5 separate regions of the Homo sapiens genome follow, and regions 1, 3, 4 and 5 are each reported to be linked to region 2. The links are microRNA targets in miRTarBase. Many come from high-throughput screens and were not tested one by one. Region 2 holds a microRNA gene; each other region holds the end of a gene's coding sequence.
The links. The annotated mature microRNA hsa-miR-384 reads AUUCCUAGAAAUUGUUCAUA and lies in region 2 at 2,392-2,411, shown strand. An mRNA with a match to its seed (bases 2 to 7 or 8) in the 3' UTR can be bound and repressed. Matches are read on the target gene's strand: a 7mer-m8 pairs with bases 2 to 8, a 7mer-A1 pairs with bases 2 to 7 and ends in A, and an 8mer does both.

Region 1: the mRNA of CDHR1 is a reported target of hsa-miR-384. Seed matches in the 3' UTR shown: 7mer-A1 at 4,963-4,969, 8mer at 3,020-3,027 and 7mer-A1 at 1,890-1,896.
Region 3: miRTarBase lists TMEM248 as a target of hsa-miR-384. Seed matches in the 3' UTR shown: 7mer-A1 at 3,024-3,030.
Region 4: the mRNA of GP2 is a reported target of hsa-miR-384. Seed matches in the 3' UTR shown: 7mer-A1 at 4,393-4,399.
Region 5: miRTarBase lists TRIM35 as a target of hsa-miR-384. Seed matches in the 3' UTR shown: 7mer-A1 at 3,743-3,749, 7mer-A1 at 3,446-3,452 and 7mer-m8 at 2,031-2,037.

What each region holds. Positions count from the first base shown.
Region 1 is chr10:84,214,002-84,220,101 of GRCh38, reverse strand. It overlaps CDHR1 (cadherin related family member 1), which reads right to left. Exons shown (of 17, transcript NM_033100.4): 17 at 1,408-6,020. The coding sequence ends at 5,481. Among named protein-coding and RNA genes, the nearest start is that of LRIT2, 8.5 kb to the left of the region's middle. RefSeq lists a silencer at 5,237-5,426 and an enhancer at 5,320-5,843.
Region 2 is chrX:76,915,596-76,921,695 of GRCh38, reverse strand. It overlaps MIR384 (microRNA 384), which reads left to right and starts at 2,336; the gene lies at 2,336-2,423. All of the region lies in intron 2 of MIR325HG (MIR325 host gene), which reads left to right.
Region 3 is chr7:66,953,443-66,959,542 of GRCh38, forward strand. It overlaps TMEM248 (transmembrane protein 248), which reads left to right. Exons shown (of 7, transcript NM_017994.5): 7 at 2,060-5,109. The coding sequence ends at 2,080. Among named protein-coding and RNA genes, the nearest start is that of TMEM248, 35 kb to the left of the region's middle.
Region 4 is chr16:20,306,697-20,312,796 of GRCh38, forward strand. It overlaps GP2 (glycoprotein 2), which reads right to left. Exons shown (of 11, transcript NM_001502.4): 11 at 2,878-4,585. The coding sequence ends at 4,527. Among named protein-coding and RNA genes, the nearest start is that of GP2, 18 kb to the right of the region's middle.
Region 5 is chr8:27,283,382-27,289,481 of GRCh38, forward strand. TRIM35 (tripartite motif containing 35) reads right to left here. Exons shown (of 6, transcript NM_171982.5): 5 at 5,781-5,899; 6 at 1,505-4,746. The coding sequence ends at 4,169. Among named protein-coding and RNA genes, the nearest start is that of TRIM35, 25 kb to the right of the region's middle.

The DNA of each region.
Region 1 (6,100 bases), not on the chromosome of region 2:
GACATATATATATATTTAGATATGCACATGTGTAAAACACACACATACATGTAATGTAGTAGATAATTTATTAATGTGGAATTTCCTATGATAAATTTTTGAAGAAAAGTGGTTGGAGCAAGAAAAGAACTTGTACTTCTTGTGGCCTCTCTGTACTTCCTTCCATAGCATCAAGGGGGATTGATATGGTTTGGCTATGTCCCCGCCCAAATCTCATCTTCAATCTTAGTTTCCATAATCCCCACATGTCATGGGAGGGACCCAATAGGAGGTAATTGAATCATGGGGGTAGTTTCTCCCATGCCATTCTCATGATAGTGAGTAAGTTCTCAAAAGATCTGATGGTTTTATAAGGGGCTTCCCCCTTCACTCAGCTCTCATTCTTCTCTCTCCTGTCGCCATGTGAAGAAGGACATGTTTGCTTCCCCTTCCACCCTGAGTCCTCCCCAGTCATGCAGAACTGTGAGTCAATTAAACCTGTTTCCTCTATAAATTACCCAGTCTCGGGTATCTTTATTAGCAGCATGAGAACGAACTAATACAGTGGTCTACGGATCTTGAGGGTGTCACCATCATGAAATAGCCTGGGCTACCATGAAGGTGAGAGTGGATGTTCAGACCTTCAAGCCAAGCAAAAGAAGCTTGGTGGTGCACATGAGACAGAGGGGTCAGGATGAGAGAAGGGCTGTGGAAGAGCAGCAAGCAGTGCAGGGGAGAGCCAGGAGCATGTTGGTGGGTAGGGAAGTATTCAGTTGCTTCTGTAAACATAGAAATTTAGGGAGAGGGAAAATGGTCTAGGGAGGATTTCTGAGAATCTGATACTTTTTAAGATGCTTGGGCTGCCCCTTGAAAAACTCTAGAGTACAGATTCACATTACTCAGATTGAATAAGGCAATTTCGCAGTGGGGATGCAAGAACAGACCCTGGCTGGAATGTGGTTTCTTGGGCTTAAATTTTGGTTTTCTTACTGACTTTGTTGTACCAGGGAAGTTACTATTTTTCATGTACCTTAGTCTTCTCACCTATAAAATAGAATAATAATAGTACATTAGTGTTCTCACCTGTAAAATGGGGATAATAACAGTCCTTACCTCATAGGGTTATTCTGGTAATTATACGAGGCTTTTTTTTTAACATACAAAGTTCTCAGAACAATACCTGGCACATAGTAAACCCTCAGTAAATGTCACAATAATAAATGTTACCATCATTTCAGGCATCTACATCAGTTTGTGCTTTCTTTGAATGTGACTCAGCACATAGGGCCATTTGGAATATCACATCTTATTAAGACTACATATGTGTGTATACTTATAAATATATATATGTAATAACATGATATCTGGGCTAATATCCTTCACATGTTCTGTTTAATTCATGTTGAAAAGATGCTACAGTTTCCGATATAGTTGTCATGCCCTTGAGAAGCTTATTTATTTAGAGTTTAGACCATACAAGTTTAAGGCAAATGCCTTTGATTGAGGAGACATTTGTAAGCAGGGCTACTTGCTTTTAAAATGAAGACTCCCTAGGCCCAGGCGATTAGCAATTAAAGAGAGGAATGTTGTTCTTTTTCTTTTCTTCTTTCCTTCTATCTTGTTAGAGACATACACCTAACACCTAGAAGAGAGCCTGGCACAGAAGATATACTCCAAACTTGTCACCCTAGGAATGGCTGAGTAAATTATTGAGAAATGAATAAATAACCGAACCTCATTCAGGCCTCAAAAGGGGTACATGTGCACGATTTTATAACATCAAACCGATGTCCCCAACATCAGCCTGTTGCTACTCTGCTTTATTGATCAAATGATGGTCGCTTAAGCCATGACCGCCTCATTCTGGAAACTAGGCCCTTCAGAGAACCCCTCCCTAGGTTGTTTGTGAGTTTCCTAAGGGGTCCTCCATGTGGCACATGCCAGTCTCCTGCCTCATTCCTCATGTGGCATCTTCTCCATTCTCCCTCTCCATCCCTTGGTGGCCAAGGCCTTGAAGACTGTCAGGATGTGCCACTGCCTGTCAACAGATGCCAACACCCCTGGCAGGTGGACTGGCCTTGGATTCCCTCAACGCCTTCAGTCCCTAAAAATAGAATCACCGAAATCCTTAGAGAAGCAGAGCATGGTGGCTCCTTCCCAGCTCTGATCACACTTTTCTAGCAGGATTCTGAGGGACAGCTGCTTGAGGACAGAGTGCCACAAGTTCTTAGAGACCTCTCATTGTTCCTAACTCCCCTGGAATGTCAACGCCCAAATGCAGGCTGCCGGCTACACAGGCCACAGATGCTGTGGCATCTGCCCTGTCCTCCACTCCCCTCTGGATCCACTCTCTTCTCTTTTTCTAGCATGAAGTAAAAGCTTCTGGACCTACAGGTGGGTGGAAACATCCTGGGGGGTGAGGATGCATGGAGGGGGTCCTCTCTTTCAGGACATGGTGTTCTAGTATGTGGGCCACAGTCACGGCAAGTGTCTACTGAGCTTGTGTAAGTAGATACAAAGCCGGTGCTAGGCACTTTACATATATTAGATCTTTTCATCCTCTCTGCAACCATACTTTGCACCCTGTGTTAATGAGGAAAGTGAGGCCCAGAGAGACTTGACCTCTTGCCCAAAGTCACAATTAATGGCAGAACCAGAATTCAGACCTAGGGCTGTCAAACTGTAAAGGACTTTGTTATTTCACGTGATTGGAAGATCTGAGCTCAGCCGCAGGAGGAAAATGACTCTGCAGAGTATTTGGTGTCACATCCATTTATTGTCCATGAGGCTACAGCTCCATTCTCAGGGCCAGGAATGGGCAAGCCTGCCCAGTGTGCCATTCCTGCCTCCCAGCTCTTTCCCTGGAGGCCTACCATGGTGCCAGCCTGGAGCTCTGCCTGTCCTACTGGGACCTAGCAGACAGCCCCTTGGCCCACCATTCGTAACACAGGGACTTGGCTGGCCTCACCCCACTGGCGGGGTCTCCTCCAGTGCTGACAACACTTGCCGGTGCCTTAAGTTTGGCTGCACCCTCCTCCTCTTTCCTAGTGTGGCTCATGCTGGCTACCGGGCACTTCCCCATCCATGGCCAGTTTGCAAGATTGGCTCTGCCTTGGTCCAAGTTCCTGGGGTTGTCCAAGAGACCACCCTCGGTCCCGGATCCACTTGCAAGCCCAAGCTTCCAGCCTAGAGGTCTTTAGGACGCCTGTCTGAGAGACGACAGTGCTTCCCAAGCTTTCATGCCCACCCTAGGCCTCCCAATTCCTGCCCTTGCCGGGCTGCACTGGTAGGGTGGGAGAGTGGGCAATTAATTCTAGCTCCAGGTTCCATTCCTCTCCATGCAGCCCTGCCTGGGCTTGTCCTGTTTGGGAGAAAAGTCCAGTAGACAAGGCCTGCAAATGTCCTGCTGTTCAAGATATCTGCATGGCAATTTGGACAAAAATTTTCAGCCTTCTTTAGAGTCACATCTGGGGGTCGAAGAATGGATCCACCTGCTGAAGCAGCCAGGAGGCAAGTTGAGCTTCACTGTGTGTCAGAAAGACTGGTCTCCACAGGTCAGCAAACATAAATGAAAGCAGGGAGCAGGGGATCAGCATGGCCTTTGGGTAACAGACTTTATTTTCCATTTACAAAAGAGGTTGATTGCATGCAAGCTGTAAGGATGCTGTATTCCCTGTGGAGGGCAAGCATGATCCAGCACAGTCCTCTCCTGAAACACAGGCTGGAAAGTACTTATTTGCTCAGTCTGGGCTCCTGGATTGCTCGAGTCCACCTCTTGCTTAATACTGTTCACGTTGGGGACTGTAGAAACCCCAGCAAGGATTCTGCACACTGGCACATCTCAGTAACACCTCCAAACACAGACTCAGAAATCAGGAAAGCCACAAATGCATACAATCTCTTTAAATGAAATCACCAATGTATTCTAGAGGGGTTGTTAGTAAGTAGAGCCAAATGCAAAGAACTGTTCTACTTTTCTCTCTCTGTGCACACATGTAGATTTCCTGATAGCAGGTTCCTTAAAGCAGGGCACAACCTATTTGTATTAACCCCAGAGGCCTTGTATGACTTCTGTCCTGGGGAAGGTTGTCACAAGCTGATAAGGGCTGCCCTGGCTAGACAAGATCTTTGCTACCAACCTGCTGTGTGGCCTCAAGCAAAGCATTCCCTCCTTGAGAACTCATTTTCTTCATCTTGGCAAATTAAAGACTTGGAGCTCTGGTTCTCTCTGACGGTAGCTGGCCAGGACGGTAGCGGGGATGGAGTGAGGGAAGAACAGAAGTAGAGGTGTGTGAGTCACGGCAATGCCATCATCCAGTGGTAGCCCCTAAGCCCAGCACAGTGCCTGCTGGGGCGCTTGGCAGAGTAGATGTGAGGCTCCTAATACTTTCTGGAAGAGCTGCACCCACAGAACTGGGCTGCAGAAAAATACTTTGCATTCATGCCGCTTTGCACTTGGTTAAAGCCCTCATCACCACTATTTTCTTCAATCCTCACCCTAGACCTGCATGTGAGGTAGACAGGGCCTACTTTCTTCATTTACAGATGAGGAAGAGGATGATCAGCGACTTTAAACAGCTTTCCCAAGGTTACGCGATGTGAGCAAAAGAGCTGGATAAAAACGGAAGTCTCACCACATCTCAGCCCTGATATTCATCAACTGCCCTGAATTGTCTCTTCAAGGATGGCTGGTGGGGCAGCTCCTCAGAGAGCAGCCCTGATGCTCTTCTAGTTGCCTTTAGGGCTACCTCTATAGCTCCAGCTTTGACATTTTGCGGCTCAGGGCAGTCCTGGCTGGAGACATCTGCCCTCACTCTTGGCAAGATCAATCTTCCACCTCTGTGTCCTCTGTCCCACGTGGGCATACCAGGGTCCACAGTCTCTGCCCAGACAGAATGCTCTATCTTTCCAAATGCATCCTGGCACAGTCCCACAGTCAGTGTGTTTTCTGTGCATCCTTGCTCTCCCCTTACCTACATTTGCTTTCCTACAGCCCACGAGGTTCGCTGACCTCCAGCCTGAGACAGTGCTGAGCCTCCTTTTCCTGCTCCTGCTCTCAGCTGCAGGCGTCAGGATCCAGATTCTAGTCAGTGTTGCTCCACGTGGCCAGGGCCCTGCTGCTTGACTAAGGATGATGATGAGATCCCAGTAGAACCTGAGGGACTGTGAGGTCTGGGATGGGTGAGCTGGCTTCTCGTCAATTCTCAGCCCTGAAGAATGGAGGGCATTGTAGTAGTGCCAAGGATTTGAGTAACGGGGACGTATTTGCCAATTGCATCCTAGAGCCCAATGTCTTGCCCAAGGCCCTGACTAGAGCCCTGTCAGAGCGCAACTTCTTGTTGCGCCAGAAGGTGGCGGTAGAGATGAGGACAGTGGGGATTATACCATTGTGCAAAACAGGGGTCAGTGACCTTAAGGAGCAGAGGAAGGGGAGCATAGTCCGAGCAGCAGGGTGGTGGGGGTCAGGGGCGGAGGAAAGATGGGGGGTCATAGGGCATACACTAGAAGTAAGCCTTGTTGTGCACACTCTTCTTCTCAAACTTTTGCTTGAGCTCAGAGATCAGAGTTGACTGGACGGGGCTTCCCATAGTTTTGGGTTTTGGCGGGGGTTGGGTCGGCTGCGGAGTGAGAGAGCCAGAGACAGTAGGCACGGTCCACTGGGCTGCGCCAGTGCTGGGCGCCACGCTGGGTGGTGGAGGGAGAGCCGGAGCTCTCGGGAGCAGAGAGCTTTCTGGGCTGTTGTTGTTACAGTTCTCATTGGGAGGTTTCTCTTTGAGCATGAACTTGGTAGCGGCTTTGGTGCTCTTGGACTTGAGCCACTCAATGCGGATGGTGCGGGGCGCAGGGCTGGGCCGCTTGCGGAGCACCCGCCGCATTGGCAGGACCTTGTTAGACTTCTTGTTGCGCCAGAAGGTGGCGGTGGAGATGAGGACAGTGATGGCCACGACGGTGGCCATGGTGCCGGCCAGCACACCCACGGCCTTCATGGGGTTGTCCTTGGTCTGTATCAGGAAGGCAGCCATGGGGCTCCGGGAGAGGGTCTGAAAGAGAAAGCCACTCCCTGCACTCAGCTGTTCCCACCTGGTCCCTGGAGTACAGAGTAGGTATGTGCTTCCTTAAG
Region 2 (6,100 bases):
AGATTCTCCCGTACTTACATTAGTGTCAAACTTTGAAACACTCCCATTGTATATTTTACCTGCTAATTTGAACGTTAAAACAGACCTGACACCTATAATTTTCCTATGACAACAACCCCATAAGATTTAATCTTCTTTGCTTCTTTTATTAGATACTTATATCAGCTGAATGTTTTTCTGTTGCTTTTTGTCCTCTAGCCTCATCTGATCCATCTCACAGATGTTGGGGATTCAGGGATTTCCCTTAGGTTTAAGTATCTCCCATCATTACCAGCATTGGCCTCTTCCCACAGTCATGTTCCCATCAATCACATGGACTTGGCCACATGGCAGCTTTGCTGAAGGGCCCTGCAGCCATCTCCCACAAACCCTTGCCAAGAGGTGACATTCAATCTATCCACAGAGAATATTTCCATTCTGCCAAAACTGTAAAACTGTCTGGGATTGTAGTACCTTCCAGTTATGTGCACTAGGAGGCACCTTTTAAAGACATTAATCAGTTCCCTAATGATTTCATGGTACAGCAGGTGGAGCTCAGGTGACTTGTGGCAGGAAAGTAAGGCCACAGCAATGCTGGCCTAGTGGTTTAAGGTCAGAGCCCCTGAAACTCTTAAGTCACAAGGCAAGAAAAGTCCACTGGGCATTTCTGGGACCTGTCCCAAAGATGAGAGAATATCCTAAATACTAGGAGAACACAAATGTCCTAGTTGTCAGGTGAAGGATGCCCCCTAAATGGGGCTTATAGGATTACTCAGCCTATTACTGATCTCAGCCCCATCATTCTAGGGCTGCCATCTCCTCAGTGGGCCTTCTTGGCTGGATCTAGAAGCATCTCTGGAGGGCTTGCCCAGTGTCTCAGGCACGTACAATACTTCCACCTAACTCAAACCACATGCAGAAAGATTATGTCATACTTGGCATTTAACCAGTTGAGAAAGGCATCAGAGGGTGTCCAGACTTCAACTTGTTTGAACAAATGTTCAAAAAACATTTCTAAGGGGATATTCCAGAAAAACATACCCACTTAAGCTCTTAAAACAGATGGTCATTCTCTAGGATTGTGTTGCTTTTCAGCCATTATTATTGAGTGCTGTAAGTGATACCAAATCACTTTAAAGTTTGAATTATGATGGCTCTTCAGATTTTTCTTGCAGGTTTATTGTGGGTTAGGAGAAGGATGTGGCAGAGAGCAGTACACAATGCTGAGAAAGAAACATATTGTTGTACTTCAGAGTCTGGGCTTCAGAGTTGGGCAGGTAAAGGCTTAGATCCCTGACTAACTGGGTGACTTAACTTCTTCAAACCTCAGTTTCTTTATTTATAAAATTAAGATAATAACATTGCTTACTTGATGGGTTTGTGAAAGGAACTAAAAGAGATATCACATATAAAGGGTCACCATACTGCATGCTATGTAGTAGTAGTAGTACTGTTGCTGCTGCTATTTCTAATACAGGCAGTGGGGGCTATTCCCAAATTAGATGGAGAGTTGAAGAGGGCCTCAGGGTCATGATTTTCTAGCCTAAGAAGAAGGTGGTCAGACCATGGAGAAAGATTCCAGGACTGCAATTTTAGCTTGGAAAAGGGTAAATGCCAGAGCATGCAGGGACCTGATATTTGATTTTCCTCATCTGAGAACGAAGCTCTTCTTCCCTTCATTAGTTTGCTATGTGCCCTAGCTCAAGCCACTGTAGATCTCTGGGTTTCAGTTCCCACACTTGAAAACAAAACCCTATGGCATGTATTTGCAAGCTAGCTGGCCTAAACCAGTCTTAATCTGTGAATGGAACATGGCATATGCAAACTCGTCCACAAGGGACATGATATTAGTCTCTGAAGGCACTAAGCTAATCTAATCAGCTCCTAATCCAGAGATATGCTATAGCCATCACCAGCCATCATCATCATCTTTGTTAACAACAGCCAAGCAGTGATATCTTGGGCTCATTGCCAGAAGGAAGCATGTTCTTACTTTCAATATAGCCATCATGTTGGTATTTCACGTTGTAAAATGTTAGATTTTTAAATATGTATCATATGTTTGGACTTATGGTTGTACAACTCAATAAGAAGTTTTATAACTTTCTTTAAAAAGGACTGAATCAAAATTTTCTTTGCACTTACATTCTTTCATTTACTTTATGTAGTCTTCTACACATGCGTCTTAAAAAATACAGTATAGTTATTTGGCTATTACCTATGCTGTATTACATTTTTTATAGATAATCAATTATCTGGTTATATGTCAGGCCTGCAGAAATAGTGCCTTCTGATTTGATGCCAGTGTATGATCAAGTTCCTTGCCTTTTAACTAGTATTTATGTTATAGGCAGAATGTTAAATCAGGAATTTTAAACAATTCCTAGACAATATGTATAATGTTCATAAGTCATTCCTAGAAATTGTTCATAATGCCTGTAACATATATGCAAATAACAAGATGCCTGAAATACATAGGAAACCTTCAAGATGCTAACTGGCCATCTCTATGACATCTTTGGATTGCAACATTTGTTTTAGCAATTCTACTTATTTGTCTGTTTATATGTCTACATATTAATCATAATTCTAGTAATAATAATGCTACTTAATTTTTATAGCTCTCACAAATTCCTGAATTTTTACTAGCTGTTTGGTGATTCAGGGCTTTGAACACGCTCATTTTAAGAGGCACTAGAAATAAAAGAAACCAACAAACAGATATAAAGGGAAGCTTGTTTATCAGATCCTCTAAAGCCCCATCCAAATTTTCTTATTCCTGTTCACAAGCTTTAGCTCAAGCTTCCTTTCCTTTTCCCTACCTTACTCGACTCCATGTAAGCAGTTTTTAATATCCTAACTCCTCCAAGTTTTCCTAGGCTACTCAAAAGAAACCCAATAAATTGTACCAACCTCCTCTGTGTCAACATGAAACTTCCTTGCCTTTCCCTGCTCACCTCCCTGTTAATGGGCCTGAGTATGCACATGGTGTAATTGTTTTATCTATATATTTGATTCCCATCTGTATTTATCTTATTTTCATTTACTATTTTGAAATGATCTACACATTGGTTTATGTCAACATTGTCTATTATAGGTTATCTCTATATAATCATCCCCGACAATTTGGAGATGAAGAAGAAAAATGTTGAATTAGTTTAGCCTTTGAGAGTTAAGATCATATTGCATCACCGACTGGAATTCTTTTCTCTCTCAGGCTGGAGTATCTCCAGTCCATTCCAACAATTAAGCCATTTTGGTTAACTTCTGATTGACTAATGTAACTGGACCATCTCAGGAAGCCCAGTAAAATGAGGCCAGGGAATGAGCTAGCAACATGGGATGTGGAACCAAGGGGTAAACCTCTGATTTATTAGGCAGGGCCTTCTAACAATTGACATCAGAATCTATTATAGGTGCCAAGGAATTGACTGATGTTGTAAGATGCTGTTGAGCAATATTTGACAGTCATATAAATGGGTGCTTAAACCTGCTCAGATGAGAAACCTCACTCCCATTTTCATCTCTACTGTATCCAGAGATGACTCAACTGTCAGGGACCAGCTCAGATGTCTTTTCTTTGTGAAACTCCTCTAGTTGCTTTGGGTCAGACTGGCCTATCTTTTATTTTTTTTCTTTTTTCTTTTTTCTTTTTTATTTTTTTTGAGACGGAGTCTCATTCTGTCGCCCAGGCTGGAGTGCAATGGCACGATCTCTGCTTCCCGGGTTCACGCCATTCTCCTGCCTCAGGCTCCCAAATAGCTGGGACTACAGACGCCCGCCACCATGTGCGGCTAATTTTTTGTATTTTTAGTAGACACGGAGTTTCACCGTGTTAGCCAGGATGGTCTCGATCTCCTGACCTCGTGATCTGCCAGCCTTGGCCTCCCAAAGTGCTGGGATTACAGGCTTGAGCCACCGCGCTGGCCTGGCCCATCTTTAAAAAAAAAATAACAAAAAACTCCTCCAGCCCTTTAAGTTCATTTTGTCTCTAGCACTGAGTTTTGCCAATCTAATTATATACTGTATATACTTTTTATGTATGATAGTTTCATGTATGATTTTTTCACCTATGGTGACCATATTTTCCAAACTAAAAGTTGGAATACATTATCTGAAAATGTAGGTAGCCTATTTGAAATTAATAGTGCCTTGGAAAATGGATGCTCCTTCCCCTCTGTGTGCCTCACCTACTAAATATTCAATATTGGCTGCTATTGATGATACAAGGATAAAGAATGATGCAAGGTGGTATCTACTAAGTGTCAAGTGAAGGACACTAATATACTTTGGACTTTTTAGTACAGAGAACCATTGACCAAATACGTTGCTACTATGCTTGAGGAATGATGCATTGATTCTGAAAAAGAAAAGAAATATGGTGTGGGAAGGGAATAATGGCAACAAAAATACTAGTAGCGAGAGATATTACGTAAGAAACATGTCATATAAAACATCATATGAGGATAGTCTAAAAAGATGGGTGCTTGTTATTCAGAAAGACAAAAGTAAAAGGGGTATCACTGAAGTCTGTAAAAGGGTGGATCAGGTGGACTTGGATTTGTTTACTGGACTAGCTATATTCCTGAATACCAAAATTTCAAGTAAATTTAGGAAAATGAAAGGGGTGATGAGCACTTGGAATTTGTTATTTTGAGAAGTGGTAAAGGCTGAGAATATAGCTTAGGAGAAGAGTTTAGTTTTATTTAAGGCAAGGATATTAAACTGTTTTTATTCATTAACCTTTTAGCTGAATTAGTTAAGAAGGTAACTGGTTAATCCATTTTAGACAAGAAAGCAGTCATTTTATTTGGAGTCAGCTCTGATGATAGCAACAAGAAGAAATGTCTTTTTTTATTATTATACTTTAAGTTTTAGGCTACATGTGCACAATGTGCAGGTTAGTTACATATGTATACATGTGCCATGCTGGTGTGCTGCACCCATTAACTCGTCATTTAGCATTAGGTATATCTCCTAATGCTATACCTCCCTCCTCCCCCCACCCCCATGTCTTGCAGTGAGGGTAAGATAAATGTGGAGAAAATTATTAAAGAACAGCAATCAGGAATCAGCTTAGGGGATAACTTTCCTGCATACCTTAATTACCCTTAAGAGTAGCACAGCATAGTACAGTGATTCATTTTTATAATAGTAACCTTGAAACATTAAGGCAAATTTAGATTACATTCCATGTACTCAGTTCATGTGTACTTCATGGTTTTTAAAAATAGGACTCCAAGAAATTGTTTCTAATCAAATTGGAAACCTCATCACAACACCTTGGATGTTTTCATATCGAGAAAGAGGACTATAAGGTACAAATGATTTCCAAACATAGGAAGGAGTTATTTTTTTTAAGATTAACAGTCCAGTTGATGGAAGGCAAGATAGTATATTCCTGCTAGTAAAGCCGATTGAACTTTGAAAGGTCACAAACAAAAACTTATTTACATAGTACTGTTTTGACCCTTCTGCCAAATGCTAATAGCATTTTTTTTGGCAATTCAGGGAAATTAGAGAGCTCTGAAGTTCCAGCAGAGAGAGAGCAATCGTTATAGATATTCTTTAGATTGGATATCATCAACAAATACCAGAGTCCTTAGGAAAGCATTTTCAAATCTATTTTCTCTACTGAACAGTGCTCATGACTAATGGGCCCAAGGGACGGTGGCATTTGGAGGCCGTCATTCACTATGACAGCCTGCAAGCCAGCCACAGAGTAGGTGGTGGTATGCCAACAAAAACTGAAAGGAGGAGAGAAACACTTTTCGTTATGTAGCAAACCACTGGGTAAATTTAAGATTTATTGGAAAAGTTGGTTTTATTCCTTTTTCTCAGGAGGGTAAGCCATGCTTCTCATTATACCTAGCTTGGTAAATGATCTTTGGCATCAATGGTTTGTCCTGTATTTTTCACCAGTAATCCGGTCTACTAGATGTTAAGCTCATTGAAAGTAATGTTTATATCTGATTTTATCCTCTCTCCCCATTCATCCACCTTCCCCTCCACCTACCCAGCCACAATAGTGCCCTGCACATATTAACAGTTGCATAATTATTGCTAAAATAATAAATTTATTAAACAGTTTGTTAACTGCTATTAGCATATAAATAGAGTG
Region 3 (6,100 bases), not on the chromosome of region 2:
TTCTATTTATTGTGGGTGGCACCTTTCGTCTAAAGAAATGACAGTCATCCCTTGGTATCCGAGGAGGATTGGTTCCAGGACCCTGGTGGATATCGAAATTCATGAATGTCCAAATCCCTTCTGTAAAATGGTACAGTATTTGCATATGACCTCTGCACATCCTCTGTAACTTTTTTTTTTGAGATGGAGTCTCGCTCTGTCTCCCAGGCTGGAGTGCAGTGGCACTATCTTGGCTCACTGCAGCCTCCGCCTCCCAGGTTCAAGCAGTTCTCCCACCTCAGCCTCCCGAGGAGCTGGGATTACAGTCGCAAGCCACCGCGTCCCACTAAGTTTTTGCATTTTTAGTAGAGACCGGGTCTCACCATGTTGGCCAGGCTGGTCTCAAACTCCTGACCTCAAGTGATCCACCCGCCTTGGCCTCCCAAAGTGCTGGAATTACAGGTGTGAGCCACTGTGCCCAGCTCATCCTCTGTAACGTTAATCTCTAGATTACTTTCTTTTTTTTTTTTTTTTTTTTTTTTGAGAGAGTTTTGCTCTGTCACCAAGGCTGGAGTGCTGTGGCACGATCTTGGCTCACTGCAACCTCTGCCTCCTGGGCTCAAGTGATTCTCTTGCCTCAGCCTCGAGAGTAGCTGGGATTACAGGCATGTGCCACCACACTCAGCTAATTTTTGTATTTTTAGTAGATACAGGGTTTCACCATGTTGTCCAGGCTAGTCTCGAACTGCTGTTATCAAGTGATCCACCTGCCTTGGCCTCCCAAAGTGCTGGGATCACAGGCGTGAGCCACTGGGCCCAGCTTCTAGGTTACTTATAATACCTAATACAATGTAAATACTATGTAAATAGTTGTTACAGTGTATTTTTAAAACTTGTGTTATTTTTATTGTTGTATTCTTATGTATTGGTTTTTTTTCTTTTGAGTATTTTTGCTTTTTTAATTTTTTTTTTTTTTTTTTTTGAGACAGGGTCTCACTTTGTCACCCAGGCTGGAGTAGAGTGGTGCGATCGTAGCTCATGACTCAATCATAGTTCACTGCAGCCTTGACCTCCCAGGCTCAAGCGATCGTCAACCTCCTGAGTAGCTGGGACCACAGGCATGCATCACCACACCTGGTTAATTTTTGTATTTTTTGAAAAGACAGGGTTTCGCCACATTGCCTAGGCTGGTCTTGAATTCCTGGGCTCAAGCAATCCACCCACATTGGCCTCTCAAAGATTACAGGTGATTACAGGTGTGAGCTACCATGCCCAGCCCTCTTTTGTGTATTTTTGGTTGAATCTGTGGATATGAAACCCACAATTACAGAAGGCCAGCGGTAGTTTCTGTCTTCATTAGAAGTGTCTTTACTCTCAACCTAAATTATGTTGTTGGATTTTTAATCATATACCCAAGCCTCTGTTGCTATTAAAGGGAGTGACTTGGCAGTTGTTCTCAAGTCTCCACTGGAGCACTACTGACTCTGGGTAGCTGCCTCCTCTGTAGTTCCATCAGCATAAGAAGTCTTCTAACAGAATGCTTATCAAGGTTTAAAGACAGTTACCTCAGCTAGGTGGACCTGTAATCCCAGGACTTTTAGGAGGCTGAGGCAGAAGGATCACTTGAGCCCACGAGTTCAAGACCAGCCTGGGCAACATAGTGAGAACCCTTCTCTACTAACAGTTAAAAAATTAGCCAGATGTAATGGTGCATGCCTGTATTCCCAGCTACTGGGGAGGTTGAGGAAGGAGAATTGCTTGAGCCCAGAAGTTGGAAGCTGCAGTAACCTACGATTGCACCACTGCACTCCAGCCTGGACAACAGAGCGAGACCGTGTCTCAAAAAAACAAAAACCAGTTAATTCTGTCTCCGCACAGTGGTTCCAGATGGGCCGCGTCTTGCAGGAGACTTTGAGATTTCTAGTAATTTCTTCCTAGGTGAGATTTTCTTTTTAGGGATTTAGTAACTTCACTGTCTGGTTGATATGTGCAATTAGTGTGGCATCCTGGTCTTTGGGTAGGGGCTGAGTTACCTAGGCTTCCCTTTTTTGACTGGTTTCCCTGGCTTGCTGTCTTCCAGGTGGCTTTGGCTGAAGCCTAATTCCACAGCTCCTTGTTTTTTGAGAGAGACTGAGAGAACCATAATCCTTGCCTGCTGAACCCAGCCTGGGCCTGGATGCTCTGTGAATACATTATCTTGCGATGTTGGGTTATTCCAGCCAAAGACATTTCAAGTGCCTGTAACTGATTTGTACATATTTATAAAAATCTATTCAGAAATTGGTCCAATAATGCACGTGCTTTGCCCTGGGTACAGCCAGAGCCCTTCAACCCCACCTTGGACTTGAGGACCTACCTGATGGGACGTTTCCACGTGTCTCTAGAGAAGGATTCCTGGATCTAGCTGGTCACGACGATGTTTTCACCAAGGTCACAGGAGCATTGCGTCGCTGATGGGGTTGAAGTTTGGTTTGGTTCTTGTTTCAGCCCAATATGTAGAGAACATTTGAAACAGTCTGCACCTTTGATACGGTATTGCATTTCCAAAGCCACCAATCCATTTTGTGGATTTTATGTGTTTGTGGCTTAATAATCATAGTAACAACAATAATACCTTTTTCTCCATTTTGCTTGCAGGAAACATACCTTAAGTTTTTTTTGTTTTGTTTTTGTTTTTTTGTTTTTTGTTTTCCTTTATGAAGAAAAAATAAAATAGTCACATTTTAATACTACTCTAGTTAGGACAGACTTGTGCTTTTATCCTGACTAAAAAGTTAAATATTTAAGTCACATACATGGTAAAGATCTAAGTTTCATTTTCCACATGGATGACCAGGAACCTGGTCTTGTTGGAGCTGGCATAGGAGGTTCTACTGTCTTGTCGTCCACTCTTGTCCCTCCCTTCTGTTATCAAAGTTAAAGCGCCTCTTCACTCAAAAGGGCTTCAAAATGTAAATGGCTCTAGAGTTAGAGTGACTGTTTGCTCTTCTGCTTTCTGGAATGCAGATGACAGTATGGAAAGAAAGAATAATGATTCTATCTAATAGGAAAGGATTTCTTCTTTCTTTTTTAAAGAGTGGGTGGATTTTCTCCCTTTTGTTTTGCTTTTATTTTCATGCTACTAACATATCTTCAGAAGGAAATGGCAACTAGTAGATCAGTAAAATTACGAAAACGATGCCTGCAAAATTTGAAGGAATGCAATTCTGATTTGCCATTTATCAGGGAAAACTGAAAGCATTTTTCTTATAACTTTTTTTCTTTTTCTTTTTTTTTGGAGGGGGGAGGCAGGGTCTTGCTCTGTCCCTCAGGCTGGAGCTTAGCTCAGTGCAGCCTCCAACTCCTGGGCTCAAGCAATCCTCCCACTTTAGCCTCCTGAGTAGCTGGGACTACAGGCGTGTGCCAGCGCGCCTGGCTAATTTTAAAATTTTTTTGTAGAGACAGAGTCTCCCTCTGTTGCCCAGGCTGGTCTGGAACTCCTAGCTTCAAATGATCCTCTCACCTCGGCCTCCCAAAATCCTGGGATTCCAGGCGTCAGCCACTGCTCTCGGCCCTCTTACACCATTTTGTTTGATTGTCTAGTCCCTGTTTCTTTTTCTTTCTAATCCTTATTCATTTAAGCAAAACCATACATTATCTTTTCCAGTCCTTTCTTGTATTCTTACTGTTTTTTTAAAATAACTTTTTGCCTTAATAGCTCATTGTCACTAATAACTTCTGTGTTCTCCCAGGCAGTGTTATAACAGAAGGGCAATGAAAACATTGGACATGACCATGAGTGCTTCCTTTCCTTAACTCTAGGTTTGTAGTCTGTTTTAAATTAGGATTAGTTCCTGCATTCTGAAATACATTGGCCTAGAACATTTTATCCCAGGCATTTTTGAATAGAAAACAGTTGCGTGCTTTTATTGAAGATTGTTAAAATAATCACCATAGTAACTTGATATGTTAGTATTTTTCTTTTTCCTTTTAGTATGTTTCAAGTGCAGTAATCGTACTTGTCTATCCAGTTTCTATGTATGATACGAGTTGCTTACACGATGCATGGCTAACTTGTTAATTTAGTTTTCTCCTTAGAGACTTTGAGACCCTTAAGAGACAAGATTGAGAAAGAGCCATGTGGCTTGGCTCTAGAAACGTCATTATCATTAGGACCATCAGATTTTAGATTAAGCTGCTATTGAATTAATAAAATCCCAATGAAGCAGAGTTATAGGGATAGATTTATAGCTGGCAGAGTGGTATCAAAGGAGAAAAACAGTGAAAAAGCCAATTTCACTGGTTCGTTCAATCCAGCTTGTTGCTAATATTAGTTACCCTTGTTTTAATGACAGAGAGTGGCTGGAATCTGTAGCTAGGGGAGGGGCAACACTGTTAGATGTGAGGAAAGGAAGTGCCAAAAATGCCTGGACAGATGGCTTGTCCCAAGGCCAGGACACACACTTTAAAATCCAACATTCACCTAAGCAAGTAATTCTTAAAGATCTTACAGAAACGCAGAGTCAATCAGGTTTATAAAGGAAGGCTGAGGGGAGAGAGGAGGCCTGGGGGCCTGGACGAAGAGGCCTAGGACCTGAAGAGACTCCAGCGAGTCTCGGGAAGCCCAGGGGACCTGTCACCATCTGGGCACTTCCCAGGCTCAATGCTCAGCCAGAGTTTGCTGGTGGACCTCAGGATTCGAAGTGTGCAACAGACGGAGTGCGCTTGCTGTTCAGGGCGGCCCCGTGCAGGAGCACCAGCTCACCCTCAGGCATCTCGGACTGGAGGGCCAGCAGAAGGTCAGCAACTTACTCTTAAAACGATTGTTTCGGATCATATTGATCTCTTTCCTTTTTCCTTTTGTCCTTTCACTGTATGACTTGAATCAGTTTTGATTCTATTTGTAAGTGTTTCTTGTCGTGAGGCACCTGCCATGTCTGTTGCGTTTTCCTCGGCAGCGTGTAGGGCTTCAGCTTCCTGGGTTTTCACCCTTCCTGCAGGCACTGTGGGGTCCTGAGGGCCAGTGGGTCCATTTCACCTCTTGCTGCATGATGGTCAGTAGCTGATCTGTTATGGCATTCACTTCCAGATTAATTTTCCGTGTTTGAAGTATGTGCATATGTGCTTTACAGAATAAAACATCTGAATTTATTTGCTCCGCGTCTTCTTCCTCCAGCCGGATGGGTGTTTTCTAAGGGAAGAACGTGTGCGATCAGCAGCTGAGGGTTTTTTGCAAGCTGCTGCTTTGAAATGTCACTTCTCATTTGGACGAGGGGTGGTCATTATTCTGCTGAAGGCAGCCTCACCCAGCACATGCATCTTCCCCCTGAGGGTACAAAACCTCCTGTAGCTTGCTAGACCAACAAGTGCTTGCAGGCCTGACCCTAATCCTGCCCAAGGAAGTAAATAATAAATACCAGCAGGGAGCACTGAATAGACATAGGAGTTCCAAGACACCCCTCTCGGTGACATAAACCCTCAGCATGCACTAAGCCTGTATGCCCAGCCGCAGGTGCCCAGCCCGCTCTGCGGTCTCCTGTTGCAGAGCTCTGGCCCGCTCTAGACCTCCTTTGCCAAGACAGTGCATCCTCTGCAGTTTCCATAGCTAAAGGGAGATCGTATTCACTAATGTGAATCCTTCCCCTTTCCAGCAGCCAGAGGCTCTGTGTCCCTTCCCTTCCCTCCCCAGCAGGTGCTGGGGTCGCAAGGTCAGTCTCATGGTTGAGGAAGGTGCTACTCAATGAGCTCTTTGTTCCTTCTGCCTCCACCTCTCCCTGCCTCCTGCCTGGAACAGGCAAACTCTGCGTGGAGCGCAGTGTTATTTCCTGCTCTCTCCTTGGACTCAAGTATTTGTGTAGGTGGTGATTCCCCTCCATCCCAGTACAGAATACGCCTTGGAGGAGAAGAACTCATGTCTCTCTGCTGTCTTAGCCTGGTAAAACCTGATACGTGCCAGGTTCTCAAGTCAGGTCAGAGGTTTTGCTTTAAAATCATTTCATTTTCCCGGTGGGCCCCCTGTGCTTCCAGTTCCCTCACACTCACGGATCTGTAAGGATTCCCCCAAAAGTGGAATGAACGCACAGACTATAGCACTCCGGAGTCTACTCAAGGTCATTGTGAACTTAGTTGCTGTCTCAAAGAA
Region 4 (6,100 bases), not on the chromosome of region 2:
TGAAGAATGTGATCTGTCAGGTAAGCAGGCAGAACTCATCCTATAGAAGGTAAAGAGCCTCTGGAGCGATCTAAAGGAGAAAGTGTCTTTTGTTTTAAATGCTCACTAGCTGCAGAGTAGAGAATGGATTGAGAGAGGTGAGCCTGAAGAAAGGCCACTTAAGAAGCTATTATGGTGGTTAAGGTGAGAGATGAAAGTAGCCCGGAAAAGATCAGATTCAATGGGGTTGAAGAAAAGTGGATGAATTTGATAGACTTTTAGAAGGGAGAATCTAATATGATAGAAAATATGAGGGTGATTTCTGGCCCTTCACAGGAGAAAGAGGCTGAAAGAGAGGAACGGAGTGAGGAGAGATTATGAAATGAGTTAGGATGGGTGGGGTGTATCCTCTGGGGTTCCCATGCCAAATTTCCTTCAGGTGACCAGTTTTACCTTTCTCCCTGCCACCTTCATCCCTGCCTGGTCATTAAGGATGGACATGCCACTTGTCTTTGCTGGACCTTAATTTCCATCCATGAAATGAAGGGACTGGGATTGAGCCCTTCCCTCTTCTCCCAGGCTGGGCTGAGCTCTCCCTTCTCTGAGTCTTGCAGTATCTGTCTCAGTCTTACACTACTAAGCTTTTGCTGCCCAGTATCTGCATTCTGTTTCCCCAAGAAGAGTTGAAGTTCTTGGAGGGGAGGGCACCTTAAGCCACTCGGTATCCTCTACCAGCTGCTTGCAAAGGCTTCTTCAAACCTGAGAGGCCAGTCTTCCTGGGTATGGAAGACTAGTCTTCAGGTTGCTTCTGGCTATCCCCAACATCCTTACTCTCCAGAACTTTCAGATGCTGGGTCCAGGGCCCATTTCACTGAGCCCTCTGCAGCTGGAATTTATCTTGCCCCAGAGCCCAGCTGAACAGCACTGGGGGTGGGAGATGTAAGCTGATGGGAGAGAAACATGGCAGGAATCCTGGTTCTAGGAGAGTTGGATCCAGATCCTGTGTCTCGTAGGGATGTATGTGTGTGTTTATGTGTATATGTATGCGTGCATGTGCAGACATATGTGTGTGCACGTATGACACATTGGAGTGTCTCTGTGGGTTTTTTTTCTGTATTAAGTTATATGTGAAGTTCCATTGGTGTGTCTGCACTAAATCATGATGCATAAGTCAGCGCACACATCTCAACATCTATACGCCCATGACTATTAATGCCTGTGTATGTGTGAGGGCCTTTGCTGGAAAATGCATGTGTCTGTCCACATACCTGTTTGCAAGTGGGTGCATATATGTTATACACATATACGTTTGTGTGTATATGGGTGCCGCACTGTGTGTGTGTGTGTTTATGTGTGTGTGTGTGTTAAGTGTTATATATAAATGGAGGCAGGATACAGAGTCTAGTTTAGAGCATTTGCTTCAACGTCTGGCTACCTGGGTTCAAGCCCTGAAATCAGCATTTAAAAGCTATAGGCCTTTGAGTAATTATCTTTTTAAAGCACCGGTTTACTCGTCACTAAATTGAAGGTAATAATAGTGGCTACCTTCAATGTCTAATGTGAGGGTGGAATGATATAATGCCCAAAATGCACTTAAAATAATGCCTTATACGTAGGGGGTGTTAAAAAATATTGGTTGTTACAAAGTAATTCATGACAATAAATATGTAAGTGGCTGACTTGAGGGTCTCTGAGGCTTTCTGCATGTGCATCTGTGCCTTTGGGCACGTGAGGTTGATATGTGTGTCTGTTAGAATGTGTGTGTTGGTGTGGATAGACGCCTCTGGGTATACAGGCCTGTGTGGGGGGCTAAGTGGGCATGTGTGTTTGTGGTTTGCCTGTGAGTGCCTCTATGTGAGTTTGTGTTCTGCCAGGATTGGGAACATTCCTAGGGAAGGGATTGTGTCTAATTAATTATTGTACCCAGGCCCTTGGACCCGGGACATAAAAACTGCTAAGCAAATTTGTGTTGACTGAATGAATGAATGAAGTGGACTGGACATTCAGAGATTGTTATTCAGACAACATGCCCATTTGTAGAAAACAAAAAGGTGTAAATAGCTAGCTAGCTAGATGATAATTGAGTAGGGAGGTATGTAGACGATAGGTAGATAGGAGGTAGATGATGATAGATAGATAGATACATACATACATAGATAGATACATAGATAGATACATGGATAGATAGATGACAGGTAGCTAGACAGATAGACAGCTGAGATTGGCTCTAAGTGGAATCCTATGTACTTTCTCCTGGAAGTTATATTAGAGTTCATATGTCTCAGGGTGCTCCAAAACATCGGCTCTGGCAGCTCTGTGAGTTATTATGGAGTTGCTTTGAGGGCCTTCAGAGGAAGGAATCACAGAATGGGAGAGCTAAGCTCCCCACCTGACATCAACAAGAATCTATTTGCTTTTAATCTCTGGTTGTCCAAGTCGAATTGTAAAGTTTCACTACTATAAATTTTTGAAAATCTTGTTACAGACCAACCCCTTTTATTCTACAGAAGGGAGCAGCTGAGCCTCAGAGAGGGGAGAAGGTTAGAACCTGACCTCTCTTTCAGGCCTGTTTCTACCATGCCACCTGCCTTGGGATGTAGTAAGTATGACTCCGCTAACTCACTGGGAAACAGAATGCAATTCTTCTCAGGAACCCGTCTTTTAGAGAAGCCACTATCATAGTGGCCCTTGGGATGTCTGTCCAAGAAATGACCCCATTTGTGTCAGACCTGCCCCATTAGGTCAGCCCCTTTGGCTATGTGCTAGATGGTCCCAGTCCCCTGGCCCAGACTACTGGACCCTGACCCAAGCAGCAAAATCAAATTCCCTGATGCAATTTGGAGGTGGGATAGCAACATGCTAACCAGTCTCTGTTGGTCCCTGAATTAGGAAGTGATGTGAAGCTAGAATGTCCATATTTAATCAAGGGATGAGTGAACAGGAAAAGCTGGCTTCAGAGACATAAAAAGAAAACAAAAGCGATGCAAAAATACACAGTCATAAAAGGCTATGTGGCTTCAGAAAGAGGAACAGAAGGCAAGACAAACTTTGGTTTCTTTTGGCTTGCCAGGCCCCACTCCCGGAGCTTGTGCAGCCTGGATGTATCTCTTGCACTGGAACTTTGTGCTCTTATGTCCTTATAATTAACTCCCTTTTTGCCTGAGAAATTGTGGTGGGTTTCTGTTTCTTGCAACTACACCATCTCTGAACAAGGCAGCACATTGGAACGTCTCCTCCAAGCAGATACACAGGCTCGGCACCTGCTGGTCCACCTTGGTTCCTGATGTGTCTCTGAGGCCAACTTTGCGAGGCCTTATCTGTAGCTGTGGGAAGGGCGTAAGTCAGTGTACACATGTCAGCATCTATATGCCCGTGAGTATTAATGCCTGTGTATGTGTGATGCCCTATTTGCTGCATCTGTGTCGGGTGCTTTGAAGTACTCATTAAAGGTCTCCAGAAAGGGACTTCACCCATCTCCTAGGCTTTGCAGTTTCATTCCCATAGCAGGACTGGTGCATTGCTTCTGTTGGGACTTCTTGCTTAATCCTTCAGAGCAAGCACAGCACTGTTTACAGTGAGAGGTACTCCCTTGGGTGATGGAGTTTCTGCATCAAATTAAGTCATTCCTCCAGCATCTAGGTCCCAAGGATGTTTGTGTAGTTCTCTAAGTCACAGCATGTCTGTGGTATGGTGGGGGATAGGGGAGCTATGGGGACTAGTTCTTCCTGGAGCAGAGTCTCCAAAAGTGGCCCTTTGACATGTTCCCATGGCAATTTTTGGAAACCATGATAGAAACAATCAGAGGAAGCAGAGTGAACACAAGGGTCAGTTTCTTCAATTCATGAGCAGTCAGAACAGGAGATGCTTAGGAAGGAATCGTGGCTGGTGCCTCTTCTCCATGCTCATCCCATACCCCAGTGACAGGATACCGCTTCCCTGAAGTTAAAAACATGCACCACACTTCCGGTAAAGGCTGGAGCCACAGAGGGCACCTAGCAAGCTTGCTTTCAAGGTCCCATCAACAAATGAGAAGGGCAGCCGAGGACAGATTGACAGAAACCCCACTATGTTGCTTTTCTTTTTTTTTTTTTTTTTTCCTGAGACAGAGTCTTGCTCTGTTGCCCAGGCTGGAGTGCAATGGCACAATCTCAACTCACTGCAACCTCCACCCCCTGAGTTCGAGCAATTCTCCTGCCTTGGCCTCCCGAGTAGCTGGGATTACAGGCGCCTGCCACCATGCCTGGCTAATTTTTGTATTTTTAGTAGAGACGGAGTTTCAGCATTTTGGCCAGGCTGATTTTGAACTGCTGACCTCAGGTGATCCACCTGCCTCAGCCTCCCAAAATGCTGGGATTACAGGCATGAGCCACTGCGCCCAGCCGAGAGTTTTAAAGAAGGTGAAAGCTCTTCCCTTTTCCTAACCTAGCTTGGCCTTGATTCTATTAATACCAAGCCTGTGTGAATTGGAGTGGAAAGCAGAAGTGCTGAAGGGAGCCATTGCCAGAGGGAAGAACACAAACTTCAAGGCCAGATGCTCAGCGGAGCTCTCAGAACAGCCAAGCCAGGAGGACAGTCAGGAGGACCATAGGCCAGGCCACCAGGAACCCTGAAATACAAGAAATATGACTGTCAAGTGTTGGGCTTTGGGAGTCAGGAGCAAACATAAGTTGGCCTCTTTGTCTTTCACAACACAAGGATGAGAAAGGCAAAGCATCTTTGATATCTGGCCTAGTTATAGTCTCTGGGACTCACATGGTAGAGGCAATCTAATCACCAACCATTTTTTTCATTTTCCTCTGGACACACAGGAATGCAATTTTTCCCAGTGTCCTTTGCAACTAGGTGGGGCCATGTGACCGAATCTGGTCAATAAAATGTGCATAGAAGTCATCTGTGCCATTTCTAGGTCTGATCCTTAAAGCCTCCTATATATCCTGTTGCTCTCTCATCAACCATCTAGGGAGCAGATGCAGAGGATCCAAGATAGGACTTGCAGGGGATAGTGGAGTTACCAGAAGTTACCAGAAGGTAGTAGAAGCCTGAGCTCCTAACGACTACATGGAGCAGAACTGCATCCCCTCCCCCAGTGATTTAGTGGGAAACAATACTGTCGTCTAAAGACACAGAAGACTGGGGACTGTTTGTTACAGCAGCTAGCATTATTTATGCTGACTAATACTGAAGGGGCAGAAAGACACAGAGGTTAAAAAGCACTGCCTCTGATGCCTGATTACTTAGCTTAGAATCTCAGCTCTACACCTAGCTGGGCAGTCCCAGAAAAGTTATTAAACCTCTCTGCCTGTATTTTCCTGTATGCCAAAGAGAAATATTAATAGCAGCTGTGACTTCACTGGATTTTTGTAAGGCTTAAATGAGTGAGTTCATATTAAGCATTGAGACCATTGCCTGGCACATGGTAAACACTATATAAATGTTGGTTTTAAAAGCTAGACTCTAAGATCTAGTTCTGCTGGGATTGTATCTCTTTGGCACATCACTGTGTACTCAGTTTCAGTGAAGGACGTGGATCCCAGATGATAATGGTCTTGTATCAGAGGGCCTAGGAGAAATATGTGAGCCTTCCTGCCATACTACCAAATTGTAAAATCTCCCCATTACCCCAATTTCAAAGTAACTGGCTGATGTCCTAGAAGTGAGGAGAGAAATATCATAAATTTCAGAACAGTACATGACAAAAAGTTATAATTATAAAAACAGGTTGATGTTCAATTAATTCTAAAACATCAAAGATGATTGTGATAGCAGACAATGAAAACCACAAGTGCCCTCTTGTAGTGGGTAGGCTGTCTCAACATCAGACTGATCCCCTCCTTGTCCAGAAGCGTCCAAAATCTACCACCCATTCTAGAAATTAGTCAATTTGGCAAACTCTACTGGGAAACCACACTGTTCCAGGCACTGGGCTAACCAGAAGGACTGGCAGAAAGGAATGAGACTTGAGGTTCTTGACTTCAAGCTGCTTTTTTTTTTTTTGATGGAGTTTTGCTTTTGTTGCCCAGGCTGGAATGCAATGGTGCAATCTCAGCTCACCGAAACCTCCTCCTCCCGGGTTCAAGTGATTCTCCTGCTTCAGCCTCCCAAGTAGCTGGGATTACAGGCA
Region 5 (6,100 bases), not on the chromosome of region 2:
CAATCTTGGCTCACCGCAACCTCCACCTCCTGGGTTCAAGTGATTCTCCTTCCTCAGCCTCCCAAGTAGCTGGGATTACAGGCATGCGCCACCACGCATGGCTAACTTTGTATTTAGTAGAGACGGAGTTTCACCATGTTGGTCAGGCTGGCCTCAAACTCCCAACCTCAGGTGATCCACCCACCTCGGCCTCCCAAAGTGCTGGGATTACAGGCGTGAGCCACCGCACCCGGCCTCAACAATCATTTATTATGGTCCAGCAACATCCACAGATTTGGGGCCTGAAAGAGGAAGATGACATGCTTCCTGCACTCCCAGGTCTGCAAGCAGAAAAGACAGCGAGGTGCTCTTCCACAAAACAGGCGGCATGCAGTGGCAGCCCAGGGAGCCCCGGGCAGGTCTGGGAAGGCACCTCCGAGCTGACAAGGGGGACTGAGCGACAATAAAGGGAGGGCGACAGGCGCTGCAGGCAGGAGGAACAATGGGACCCTGCACCCAGGAAGGCTGGGCAGGGTCTTTGTAAACAGTGGTGACCGTGGTTGCAGGAGTCAGCCGGGGAGGGGTCTCGAATGTCACTCTGGAGGTGGGAAAACTCCCGCCACTGCCCCATCACTCACCACAAGGGTCACGAAAGACTTCCACTATTGTGATATTGAGCAATCAAATACTGTTGAGAGAAATTTCATCCCCCACAAGCAAGAGGAAGCAAAAAAGGAAATGGCCCCTGTGCACCTAATTCTGACCAACTGATACCTGGTGGCTGACGTGGACATGACTGGGAGCCTGGAGGTTACTGAGGCTCTCGTGTGCTCTGAGACTCCAGTTTCTGAGGTGCTCACACTGCTCAGACATTCAGGAGGTGGGGAGGGGCCCCACTTCTACAGATGAGAAAATAAGATCAGGCAGGCAGTGTGTGCCCCAGGAGATATCACGTAAGCGGCAGAGCCAATATGATCAGGAGAGCCAGAGCAACCAAGGTCAGGACATTCCAGTGACAACGGGCCCCTGGTGAGGGCAGGTGGCCTATTTCAAGGGTAAACAGGAGCCTGGTCCGGCTGGAGCCATGTGTGACGGGACTGAGAAGACTCCGGGTATAAAGGCAGAGTGCAGTGACAATGTGCCCTGAGAGCTGCCCTGGAGAAATGCACTGCAGCGGGTTGGAAATGGGGTCTCTCCAGGTGATGGGAACATGAACGATGGTGCATGTGGAATGGATGCAAAAGTGGGAGAAACTGGAGAACGGGGGCCTTCCCAGAGAGCTGCTGCTTTGAGCCTGGACACAGTAATGAGAAGGAGAGTGACGGGGTGAGTGGAAGGCAAGGGCAGGAGAGGGGCTTCAGGGAAGAATTAATGAACTCGTGGACTAGCGCTTCCTGCCAACAGAATAACTGCCCCATCCCTGAGCCAAAACCCCGAACTTACATGGACCTAAGGGCAGTATCAAAAGTGAGATTTCTAGGATACATGTACAACAAAAGAAAAAATAAATAAAAATTGGACATCATCAAAATTAAAAGCTTTAGTATTTCAAAGGACATCATCAAGGAAATGAAACAGCTCACGGAGAAAAATTTTATAATCATATACCAGTTAAAGGGACTTGTGCCAGGCTATAAAAGGACTCTTACAACTCAATAATAAAAAGACAAATAACCCAATTAAAAAATGAGCAAGTGATCTAAAGATAGCTGTCCTAAGAAGATATGCAAATGGCCAATAAGCTCATGAAAAGATGCTCAATATCATTCGCCATCAGGGAAATGCAAACCAAAATCACAATGAGATGCCACATTACCCCTACTAGGATGGCTAAGTTAAAAGATAGATAATAAAAAGCACTGAGGGATGTGGAGTCATCAGAACCCTCATGCCCTGTTGATGGGATATAAAATTGTGTCACCACATTGGAAAACAGTTTGGGAGTCCCTCAAGGGTTAAATAGAGTTTCATATGATCCAGCAAATCTGCTCCCAGGCATATACCAAAGAGAAATGAAAACATATGTCCACACAAAAACTCATACACAAAAGTTCCTAGCAGCATTATGTATAATAGTCAAGAAGTAGAAACGATCCAAATGTCCACCAATCGATGCATGATAAATAAAATGTAGTACTACCATTCCATACAATGGAATATTACCCGATGAAAAAATAAAGTTGAACACATGCTACAACATGGATGAACTTTGCTTATAAGAACATTGAAAAGAAAATGCCAAAAGAAAAATGAGTTTTAGCTCAAATTTTTTTTTAAGAGGCCTAGCCTGCTCAAGTTATCCTGTTAAAAAAAAAAAAAAAAAAAAAACTCTTCCCATATCTAAGGTGAAAATAAAAAACATTTTTAAAAGTTTAATATAAAGAATGAAATAATTTCAGGTCAAGTTTATTATACAGAAATTATATTAATGGGTGGGATAAATACTTTACAGGAGAGGGTCACACTCTCAGACACTTTGGCTCCCAAAGGGCTTGGAGCTTTTGTGAGGCTGAGCATCTTCCAACCAGGTGCATGCACTGGTTTGCCAACATCCTCACCACGCCCAATCCAGCCCCTTCACACACTGACATCGCCTACCTGGGCCCTCCTTGTGGCCTTAAGTTTTATCTAACCAGTGTACACAACATATTTATAACCAATTAATACGTGTGAGTCATGATTTGTTTAAAATGTCAGCTTTTGTGAACTGAAGGGGATGGGCAGAAGGCAGGATGCTGTCCTTGGTCAGGAATGTGACCCAGATTTTAACACTGCTCCTAGGAAAAAAAAATATTTCCTTTTATGATGCCACTTCCTGGGACATGATGAGCTGAAGATTAAAAACTCTTCAGAGATGTGCGAGAAAAAACAAGCCCAGGGAAAAGTCTGCAGGCATGGTGGAGGAAGAAATTAGGGATGAAATCGCAAGTGGCAGAGCAAGCATGACCAGGCTGAAGTCAGCAGAGACAAGAGGGCAGCGAGGCCCAGCCTCCTCTTCCCTCTCCCACAGCGTTTAGGGCCACGTCCATGGCGCCACCCCTCTCCTTTCTTCCCAACTGAAAAGGGTGCCCTCTTTCCTTCTTTTCTGCAGACGCTGATGAGAATTAACCAGAGGAACTTCCTCCACAGCAACTATAACAGGACATCCTCATCCAGTCCTCCTATCTCATTTCCTGGTGGGGAAACAGGCCTGGCAAGGAAATAGGCCGAAATCACGATTTAAAAAATGTTGTGTTTAAGTACTCTGGAACCCTGTGTTCAGAGGAAATCGTGCAAGAATAGATCAATCAGAGCTGATCTGATGGAGACGGAGGATCCAGCCACACAGAGGCCCTGCATTAACTGTATTTCCTGTACTCTTGATGCTCTGGTATCTGGGGCCTCGCTGACCTGGACAGACTGATCCTCCCAGGCTAGCCAATCCCCCAATCCCTAGAGATGGCAAGCATCTGGCTGAAAGCATGCCTTTCCTATGGAAACCAACTAATCCGGAGCGATGGCGCCAGCTGCCTCCTTCACATGGCTCTCCCAGGGCTGTCACACCCCAGGCCAACATTCACCTGTCCTGACTATCCCGGGGCCAGGTATCAGACAAAAAGGGCAGCCCCTATCCTGAGAGCCACTGAAATTACTCAAGCCAGCTACCCTTAAACCTGTCTCCCCTGCTTACTCTGCCTTGCCCATTTCCTCCTGAGGAAACCAGAGGAAGTCTCTTGCCCACACGTTCCCCTCCCTCCTTCCGCCTTCTGACCCACCGTGGGGCTTTCCTATGTGGCCCCTCCTCTCAGAACCGTAAGTAACAAACTCTCCTTTCCATGGCAGTCCCCTCCTCATCCAATGGCTTTACCACACCTCGATGAGATGGTTTACAACAGGCCCATTCTAGAAGTAAACATTATTCCCAGAAATCCTGGAATAGGGATTCAGAAAATTCACATTGTGGAGGTGCCACGACTCGGGAGAGCCTGGCCAGCGAGGTGCCACCCGAATAGCTCCTGACCATGGGCACAGAAGGGACCAAACATGGAGAGAGGCACAGCCTGGAGTCATGGAAAAGGACCAGGCAGGACAGGAGGAAGAGCCTGGCAAGGAGGCAGGGGCGCAATAGTGCCCAAGCAGTGTGGGCATTAGGAAGAGGGCAGAAAGAAAACAGTGCTGTGGCACAAGACCGGGGCAGCCCCGGGCCAGCTCAGCCATCCAGTTCTTCCTTGACACTGATGTGCAAGGGGCAGATGCGCAAAGGCTCTGGAGGCCCGGCGCCCCGTGCACCCCCCAGGTAGAAGTAGGGGCGAACCTCCCCAAAGCGGGCGTGGAAGGTGTACAGGTGGCAGTGGCGCTCCGCGTCATAGAAAGACAGCTCGCCCTCCTCACACTCCAGCTCCACACGCAGGCGGCGTGGGATGGCCAGGACCAGGGGCGACGTGGCTGGGTCCGAGGTCACGCAGTGGTCCCCCTCCACGCCCTGCGTGCGGCAGACATACCAGAAGCCCGAGCGTGTGTCGTGGTAGCAGCTGTGTGAGTGGCCCTCAGCGCCCGAGTCCTGGCGCACACGTACCACGCCCACCCTCCAGCTCTGCAGCCCCCCAAGGGCCACCTCCCAGGCGTGCGAGCCCTGTGAGAAGACACGGGAGCCCAGCAGGCAGGGCGCCGAGGAGAAGCGTTCCGGGTTCTCCACCTGCACGCGGTAGCCATGGTTGGTGACGCTGGTGAGGTCGTCAGACACGGAGAGCCAGCCAGCTGCGGTGTTGGGGTCAAAGCTGAAGGGTACTGCAAGCAGAGGCGGAAATGGGGAATCAGCAAACCTGAGGTCCCTTAGGCCACACGTGGATATCTCCAGCCCCACAAACCAACCACTGTGTCACACCTGGCCCCAAGTCCATGCAAGGAGTGGCCCAGGGCTGGAGTGGTGGCAGGGGTTGGGCTGTATCCCCCAGAAGATATGCGGCAGTCCCAACCCCTGGTACCTCCGAGTGTGACCTTATTTGGGAATGGGGTGGTTGTACACATATTAGTTAAGATGAAGACTGGAGGAGGGTCCCCAATCCAATATGACCTGTGTCCTTAAAATAAAGAGGAGACAGACACAGATACACAGGGGAGAATGCTGTGTGATGGCGGAGGTGAGGATCAAAGTGCTGAGGGGGAGCCAATAAGGCCAAGAATGGCCAGGAGACACCAGGAGACGGAAGAGGAAATGAAGACTCTCCTCTACAGGTTTCAGAGGGGGCCTGGTCCTTCCAACATCTGGATTTTGGATTTCTACCCTCCAGAACTGTGAGAGAGTCAACTTCTGTCATTTTCTAGTTTGTGGTCCTTCGTTATGGCAGCCACAGGAACTCATACAGGCAGAGACTCTTAACACTCACACGACCAAGGGATGTTAGGACAGCACGGCCCATTCCCTGAGTCAGTGATATTCCTCCCCGTAAAACCAGGACACTGTGGCTCATGTGGGCTGCAGTCGCCTTAGGAGAGGCAAGCCCAGATGCAGGAGGTCTTTTATCATACAAAACACAGTTCTGAATAGGCAAGAAAGCCAGTTTCCCTCTCTGAAGAAGGGACCAAGTGTCAGGACCCTGAGAGAAGGCATTCTACCAGGAGGGTTGGAGGTGTTGGGCAGAGTGGAAAAGACCAGGGTACAGGAACCTGCCTGCGAGGGACTGGCAGAGGGATCAGCTGAGAGAGGAGGGGAGCTCTGAGGAGGTGGGAGGTGGGCCCGGCAGAGACCAGCCCTGGTGCCTCTTTGCTAACATGAAGGGCTTCCACCCATGCTTGGGACACCTGCCGGCACCCCCGCTCACCAGATTCCACAGATGCAAGCATCTTCTTCCAGACGCGGTACTGCAGGGAGCCCAGGTACTTGCAGACATCGATAAGCATGCCGGGCTGGACTGGCTCTGGCTCCATGGTGCAGAAGAGTCTGGAAAAGTACAATGGGTATGGTGGGCAGGGCCAGAGCCATGCAACCTGGGCCGAACTGGGCCAACTGGAAACCAGCAACAGGACTTGTTCCCTTCCCTCAGGCCCAAGTTTCCTGGCCACCTTCTCCAAGACAAGACTGGACTGGGCTACGATGGGAGATGGGCCAAGGCCAACAGGGCTGCCATCTCCCTTCAGCATT